Homo sapiens: one gene and its partner. The protein of the gene in region 1 interacts with the protein of each later gene in a pairwise test. Each region holds a gene or a part of one and is shown in the gene's direction. Other genes may lie near its edges.

Region 1 (3,813 bases):
CAGCAGGGACAGCAAACGGATCCCCTTGTGGCAGCTGCAGCAGTGAATTCTGCCCTTGCATTTGGACAAGGTCTGGCAGCAGGCATGCCAGGTGCGGCTGCATTGTTATTCCTAATACTTTGGCAGGGAAAAAGGCTGCACGTTTGAGGTGATTACAGAGGGGAATGAGCAGTGCTTTCACCTTGCTTAGGCTTGTCATGATTTGGGGACTGGCAAGGATGATACACACTTGCCCTCACTTAGACTATAGTTCACTGATGAGAGCATTGTTCTGAGCCAGTCTTAAGTCATATTGGAGGTATCTAAATGTCCATGCAGCTTGGAATATGTGGTTTTTCCTTGGTGGATTATCTGTTTTCTGTTTCAGAATCAGGGATAGATGGAGTGGCCAAGCTAGTTTACAAGGCTTAGTCTTTATGTTGATGTTTTTGAACAGCATGATTAGTGAGAAATTTCTGGTATACCTTGATAGGGTCATCCCTTACGTTTTTAAGGTTTCTCTTAAACCAATAGTAGGGGTCCTTTTTAGCTGTCTACCTCTGAGATACATGTTTATATAGATACATCTTGAATATATGTTGTTTTTGGTTCACTGTCAGCTGGTTTGGTGCTTTGCATGGGATTAGATGTACTTTGATGTTCTACATGTGAAACAAGTCTTTGAGAGATGTCAGCGTATTTTTATGGACCTTTACTGATCATAGAGCATAGCCAATTTAACTGAGCCATTTATGAATTCAATAAATAACTTTAACCTGTTTCATTTGTTTTTTAGTTACTGAGCCTTTGTGTGTTCTTAGGAAGTCACCTGCAGTTTTTCATATGGCTTAAACTGGGATTTGGAGATTCTATCTCACATAATATTGAAAGATCATGTTATTTAAAGCCTATCTAGGTTTTTCCTGCTATTTTGCAGGATATTTGTTCTTAAATTATTATGTAGTATGAAAGTACTATGATTTTTATAATCATTTGTAGCCTCTGTTTATTCAACTATTTAAGTGATGGAGCCAGTATATAAATCTGGCCAATTCAACCTCAAAGCTGAGTTTGTGATTATTGACAATATGTTGGTGCCCAGGAGATACTTGTTTGTTTAACATATACATTTCTTTGTTGGCTTGATATTCCTAGGTTATCCGGTGTTGGCTCCTGCTGCTTACTATGACCAAACTGGTGCCCTTGTAGTGAATGCAGGCGCGAGAAATGGTCTTGGAGCTCCTGTTCGACTTGTAGCTCCTGCCCCAGTCATCATTAGTTCCTCAGCTGCACAAGCAGGTGAGCGCACATCTGAGTGGACTCCTGCCAGAGATCTAAAAGTGGCGACTGATAGTGAGATTCTTAAAGTATGTTGAAATAAACTTTTGGCAATTCTCAGTATATCGGTTCTACCCTGTAATGTTTCAAAAAGAGATCAGAAGCAATAAGTGACCTTAGTGGATTCTCCTTTTTGTTGGGGGGTTGGTGGGTTGGGGGAGGGGTGGCATGTGCCAGCTGGTTAGAAGCAAGGTCTGAAGGTCTGGCTCCACTGAGAACATAGAAGTTGCATTACTCACACAAAATGGCTTTGTTGGCAGAAATCCAAGTCATTATTTTAAGATAATTTTAGAGGAGGGGTTGTTTTTTGCCACAGGGGCAGGAGTGGAGGACGTGGGAAAGAGTAGTGAGAAGTGACAAAATAATACATTTGGTTGGGAGGAGTAATAGTTTTTTACTTTAAGTGTTTATATTTATTTATTTTTTAATTAAGAACAATAACAGGAACATCTAGAAGACAGCAGTGTGCTAAAATAGGAATTTGAAGGATGTGTATGTGCATTACATGGTTCTAGAAGAAACCCTCAACATAGATATTTATGGAATTTAAGATTTTAGGAAGTAGTTGTATTTAATGGATACATTTGATGTTTATACCCCTTTTAATCTGTATACTCTTAAAAGCAACCAGCATAGTGAACTTGTTCTAGTGGTATTTTGAGTTCAAATTGAAAGTAGAAACAGAAAATAGAAGCTTCATATGAAGGGATCAAAGACAGATTTGTATGGTTTGTGTCTGTTTTGAAAAGATAGGCAGCATTAAAAGATTTTTTGAAAAAAGATAAAAATGTAGTTTGGAAATGTGGCCAGTCCCTTTCATAGCCAAACGGTTTGCTTTCTTCTTCATAGCTGTTGCAGCAGCCGCAGCTTCAGCAAATGGAGCAGCTGGTGGTCTTGCTGGAACAACAAATGGACCATTTCGCCCTTTAGGAACACAGCAGCCTCAGCCCCAGCCCCAGCAGCAGCCCAATAACAACCTGGCATCCAGTTCTTTCTACGGCAACAACTCTCTGAACAGCAATTCACAGAGCAGCTCCCTCTTCTCCCAGGGCTCTGCCCAGCCTGCCAACACATCCTTGGGATTCGGAAGTAGCAGTTCTCTCGGCGCCACCCTGGGATCCGCCCTTGGAGGGTTTGGAACAGCAGGTAGAAATTAGACTGATATGCTCTTAAGACTGAATTTTAATTATTTTTACAATCCTTCTGGAATACTGGCAATGCATGGAACCACAGGCAGATCTGGACCAAGCCTTGTGGGAATCCAGCCATCCCACATAATCTGTGAGATGATAGACTATTGAAATCAAGTTATACAGATGGGACCTATTTCAATCCATGCTCATGTGGCTACTTACTTAATCAGTTTCTTTCAGGGATTTGAAATCTAGGGAAGATTTTTGCTGTATTTGGGAAAAATATTGAGGGAACTGTAGAAATTGATATCAAAAACTGAGGGAGGAGGACTTACTAAAGATAGCAGAGCTGAAATACTCCACAATTGAGACTGAGCCGAGTTCTTGGCCTGCAGGCCTTAAAGAGTTACAAGTTTTCTTCAGTCTTTTGAGTAGAATTTAAGGTAGACATGTGGAAAATTAGGAGGAAGGATATTAGACCAAGATATTTTTAATGTTTTGATGAAAAAAGCAGGAGTGTAGTATGGTGAATAATGGGATAATTGCAGAGATTATAAAAAACAAACAAACAAAAGTGATCCCTAAATAGAAGGGCATGTGTGAAAGAAAGTATCTTAATTGGAATTGAGGGCAGCATTAACTCTCGATTGAACCCACTGAGAAAACAGGCTTTCATATAGAAGTCTTGTGTAGTGGGGCAGTACCCCATTTACAAATCTTTTTTCTGTATCCCATTTTTCTACTTGAACCTTTTCAATTGATGAAAGGCATTCTTCTAGTCCATTTTCTTCCACCTTTTCCATAGTTCATGTGGCCGTCAGAGCTTTTTAACCCTCCCTTATCCTATAATATACGACACCATAGGAAGGTAAATTTGGCATATGTTTGATGGTCATGTTAACCTGAGCCATGTCCTCTTTATTACTTATCTGCCCCTAGTACTGCTACATTAACAGTTAGGCTGTCTCTGCTGACAAATTTGCGGTGGTAAGGAGTCTGGATCAAAGTGTTAGGAACAGGTCACTGGGCTTGTTCTTCGAAGAACAGGCCTGTTCTTATCTGCATTGTTTTAATTCCATTTTAGTTGCAAACTCCAACACTGGCAGTGGCTCCCGCCGTGACTCCCTGACTGGCAGCAGTGACCTTTATAAGAGGACATCGAGCAGCTTGACCCCCATTGGACACAGTTTTTATAACGGCCTTAGCTTTTCCTCCTCTCCTGGACCCGTGGGCATGCCTCTCCCTAGTCAGGGACCAGGACATTCACAGACACCACCTCCTTCCCTCTCTTCACATGGATCCTCTTCAAGCTTAAACCTGGGTAAGAACCATTACTCTAACACCACCTTGAACTCTAGAACTC
Region 2 (3,813 bases), on another chromosome or scaffold:
TCACCATGTTGGCCCAGGATGGTCTCGAACTCCTGACCTCAGGCGATCCTCTCGCCTCAGTCTCACAAAGTGCTGGGATCACAGGCATGAGCCACTGCACCCGGCCTTCCTCTTTTCTTTTTCTACCTGTCGCCCCCACAGCTGGGCAGCTCCCAGCCCTGTCCGCCCCCATCCCCTCCACCCTTTCCCAGGCCTGCCCAGCTCAGCCTCGTCCTCTGCTTCCAGCCCTGCCCCACCTTCATTCGTTCCTACCTGGTCCATCAGCCTGGACTTCAGCCTCACTCCTCCAGTCTGTCCCCTGCTTGGCTTAGGAGGGATCTTTCTACGCTTACACTCACCCCTTCCCTGCTCTCAGCTCTCTCATGGCTCCCTAGTACCCACCAGAAAAAGCCCTTGCCCTTTCTGCCTGGTGTTGGAGGCCCAGTGTGGTCTGGCCTGCACTGACCTGTGCAATGCCAGCTCCCATCTCGTCCCTCAGCCTTGCCCCTTTATGATCTGACCTCCCTGGATACCCTCTTTTGGAAACCAACAATGCTGCTGCTTTAGACTTACGTGAAGCCACAATTAAGTGCTCTGAGCTATCACTCAAGGCTCAGCCTTTGTTTGATCTTGAACAAGGGTGAGTCTGATGCCTCCTGTGAGTTTTTTTTTTTTTTTTTTTTTTTTTGAGACAGTCTTGCTCTCGTTGCCCAGGCTTATTGCCAGTGCAGTTGTGCGATCTCAGCTCACCGCAACCTCTGCCTCCCGGGTTCAAGCGATTCTCCTGCCTCAGCCTCCCGAGTCGCTGTGATTACAGGCACGCACCACCACACCCGGCTAATTTTGTATTTTTAGTAGAGACAGGGTTTCTCCATGTTGGTCAGGCTGGTCTCGAACTCCCGACCTCAGGTGATCCACTTGCCTTGGCCTCCCAAAGTGGTGGGATTACAGGTGTGAGCCACCATGCCCAGCCCTTTTTTTTTTTTTTTTTTTTTTTGAGACGGAGTTTCGCTCTTGTTGTCCAGGCTGGGGTACAATTGTGCGATCTCGGCTCACCGCAACCTCCGCCTCCCAGGTTCAAGGGATTCTCCTGCCTCAGCCTCCCGAGTGGCTGGGATTACAGGCATGCACCACCATGCCCGGCTAATTTTGTATTTCTTAGTAGAGACGGGGTTTCTCCATGTTGGTCAGGCTGGTCTCCAATTCCCGACCTCAGGTGATCTGCCTGCCTCGGCCTCCCAAAGTGCTGGGATTGCAGGCCACAGCACTTTATGGGCTACAATGCCTGGCTTTTTTTTTTTTTTTTTTTTTTTTTGGAGACGAGTTTCACTCTGTCACCCAGGCTGTGCAATGGCACAATCTTGGCTCACTGCAACCTCCGCCTCCTGGGTTCAAGCCGTCCTACCTCAGCCTTCCGAGTAGCTGGGATTACAGGCGTGTGCCACCACGCCTGGATAATTTTTGTATTTTTAGTAGAGACAGGGTTTTGCCACGCTGGCCAGGCTGGTATCAAACTCCTGACCTTAGGTGATCTGCCTCGGCCTCCCAAAGTGCTGGGATGACAGGCGTGAGCCACTGTGCCTGGCCTTCTCTGAGCTTCTTGCAGTCCCTGTGATTCTGCCACAAGAGCACGTGGCACTGGCGCTTGCCTGTCAATCTTCCCTAGCGGACTTGGACCTCCCAAAAGCAGGGATTTCTCTTCCGGTCCCCAGTGTTGAGAACAGTGTCTGCCACACAGGTGGTCTCAGAGGAAATTGGGATAACGAGCCTGCGTCCTGTCTTTTCTGCAGAGCGGGCAGTACCTGGGCGTCTGCTCAAAACCAGGGCGATGCGGGAGATGTACCGGAGCTACGTGGAGATGTTGGTGAGCACAGCACTTGACCCAGACATGATCCAGGCCCTGGAGGACACGCATGGTGAGCTGAGGCCTGGGGAGGAGGGGGGGGGGCTGACTCGGTCTGAGGGAGCAGGTGCTGAGGGCTTGGACGTGATGTGAGAGAGGAGAGGTTTGGGGTCGGGACTCCTGAGTCTGAGGGAAGAGGAGCTGAGGCCTGGACCTGGGTCTGAGAGAGGAGGGGCTGGGGCCTGGAGTCCTGGGTCTGAGGGAGGAGGTCCCTGGGTCCTAGGGAGAAGAGGCTGGGGGCCTGGACTCCTGGGTCTGAGGGAGAAGAGGCTGGGGGCCTGGACTCCTGGGTCTGAGGGAGGAAGGGCTGGGGGCCTGGACTCCTGGGTCTGAGGGAGGAGGGGCTGGGGGCCTGGACTCCTGGGTTTGAGGGAGGAGGCGCTGGGGGCCTAGACTCCTGGTTCTGAGGGAGGAGAGGCTGGACCTGGACTCCCAGGTCTGAGGAAGGAGGGACTGGACTCCCGGGTCTGAGGAAGGAGGGACTGGGGCCTGGACTCCTGGGTCTGAGGGAGGAGGGACTGGGGCCTGGACTCCTGGGTCTGAGGGAGGAGGGGCTGGGGTCTGGACTCCTGGGTCTGAGGGAGGAGGGGCTGGGGCCTGGACTCCTGGGTCTGAGGGAGGAGGGACTGGGGCCTGGACTCCTGGGTCTGAGGGAGGAGGGGCTGGGGGTCGAGGGCCTGGGGGTCTGGACTCCTGGGTCTGAGGGAGGAGGGGCTGGGGCCTGGACTCCTGGGTCTGAGGGAGGAGGGGCTGGGGGTCTGGACTCTTGGGTCAGAGAGAGGAGGGGCTGGGGGTCTGGACTCCTGGGTCTGAGGGAGGAGCGGCTGGGGGTCTGGACTCCTGGGTCTGAGGGAGGAGCGGCTGGGGGTCTGGACTCCTGGGTCTGAGGGAGGAGGGAGCTGGGGCCTGGACTCCTGGGTCCGAAGGAGGAGGGGGCTGGGGCCTGTACTTTTGTCTCTGAGTGGGAAGGGGATTTGGGGACCCAGACTCCATGACCCCACCTTGGCCCCAGTGCTTTGTGAGGCTGTGGCCTTCCTGATACCATGTCCTCGTCCATCAGACGAGCTGTACCTGCCCCCCATGCGGAAGATAGACGGCCTGCTGAATGAGCACAAGAAGAAAGTCCTGAAGCGGCTGTCGCTAAGCCCAGCCCTGCAGGTGCCTGGGGGTCTGGGCAGGGGGTGTCTGGGGCCCAGGGTCCACATGGAGAAGACATGTACGTGTCGGCCGCTGTTGGCGGGGGTGATCCTTGGAAGGAGATCGTCCTTCTGGGCTCAGATGGGAGAAAAGTTGAGGGCAGGACTGTCAGGAGATCTCTGGGTTCTCAACAGCCATGAAGCCCATGTGGGGAGGAGCTGTGGGCCTTGGGGCAGCAGAGGGGTGGTTGTGAAAGGCTGGGCTGTTGTTTCGGAGAACAAGTGTGCAGCCAAACATAGACTAGGCCTGCACCCAAAGCGGGCACTGGACCGATGGCTTCTTTGTGAGTCCAATGCAGGCTATTAGGATCCCAGGCTTCAGTGTTAAGTCATCTGTATGATTTCCCTTCTGGGATATTCTGGGATGGAATATCAGGGCTCTGAAATCCAGTGTTAAACTGGCTCTGAGGATTCTGGTTGGGATGTTAGTGTGGCACTGAGAATTCCGGGATAGAATGTTAGGGTAACTGAGACTTCTGGAATCGAATGTTATTCTGGCTTTGAGAATTCTGGAAGACTTGCAGTGATTCTGAGAATTCTGGGATGGATTCTAGGCTGGTACTAAGAATTCTGGGATAGGCTATTAGGCTGGTGCTGAGATGGCTGGTGGGAAGTTAGTCTTAGAAAATACGCAGGAAGGCCGGGCACAGTGGCTCACGCCTGTGATCCTAGCACTTTGGGAAGCCAAGGCCGGTAGATGGCCTGAGGTCAAGAGTTCGAGACCACCCTGGCTCT

The links.
Region 2: the proteins of PUM1 (region 1) and PRR12 interact in a two-hybrid assay, tested with the Homo sapiens proteins (one large-scale study listed by BioGRID and IntAct).

Annotation. Positions count from the first base shown.
Region 1 is NC_000001.11:30,964,632-30,968,444, reverse strand, and holds part of PUM1 (pumilio homolog 1), read left to right. Parts: coding exon 1-91; intron 92-207; exon of another isoform or gene 208-282; intron 283-1,134; coding exon 1,135-1,278; intron 1,279-2,166; coding exon 2,167-2,463; intron 2,464-3,534; coding exon 3,535-3,771; intron 3,772-3,813. UniProt on the Homo sapiens protein: Sequence-specific RNA-binding protein that acts as a post-transcriptional repressor by binding the 3'-UTR of mRNA targets.
Region 2 is NC_000019.10:49,618,583-49,622,395, forward strand, and holds part of PRR12 (proline-rich protein 12), read left to right. Parts: intron 1-1,769; coding exon 1,770-1,895; intron 1,896-2,942; coding exon 2,943-3,040; intron 3,041-3,813.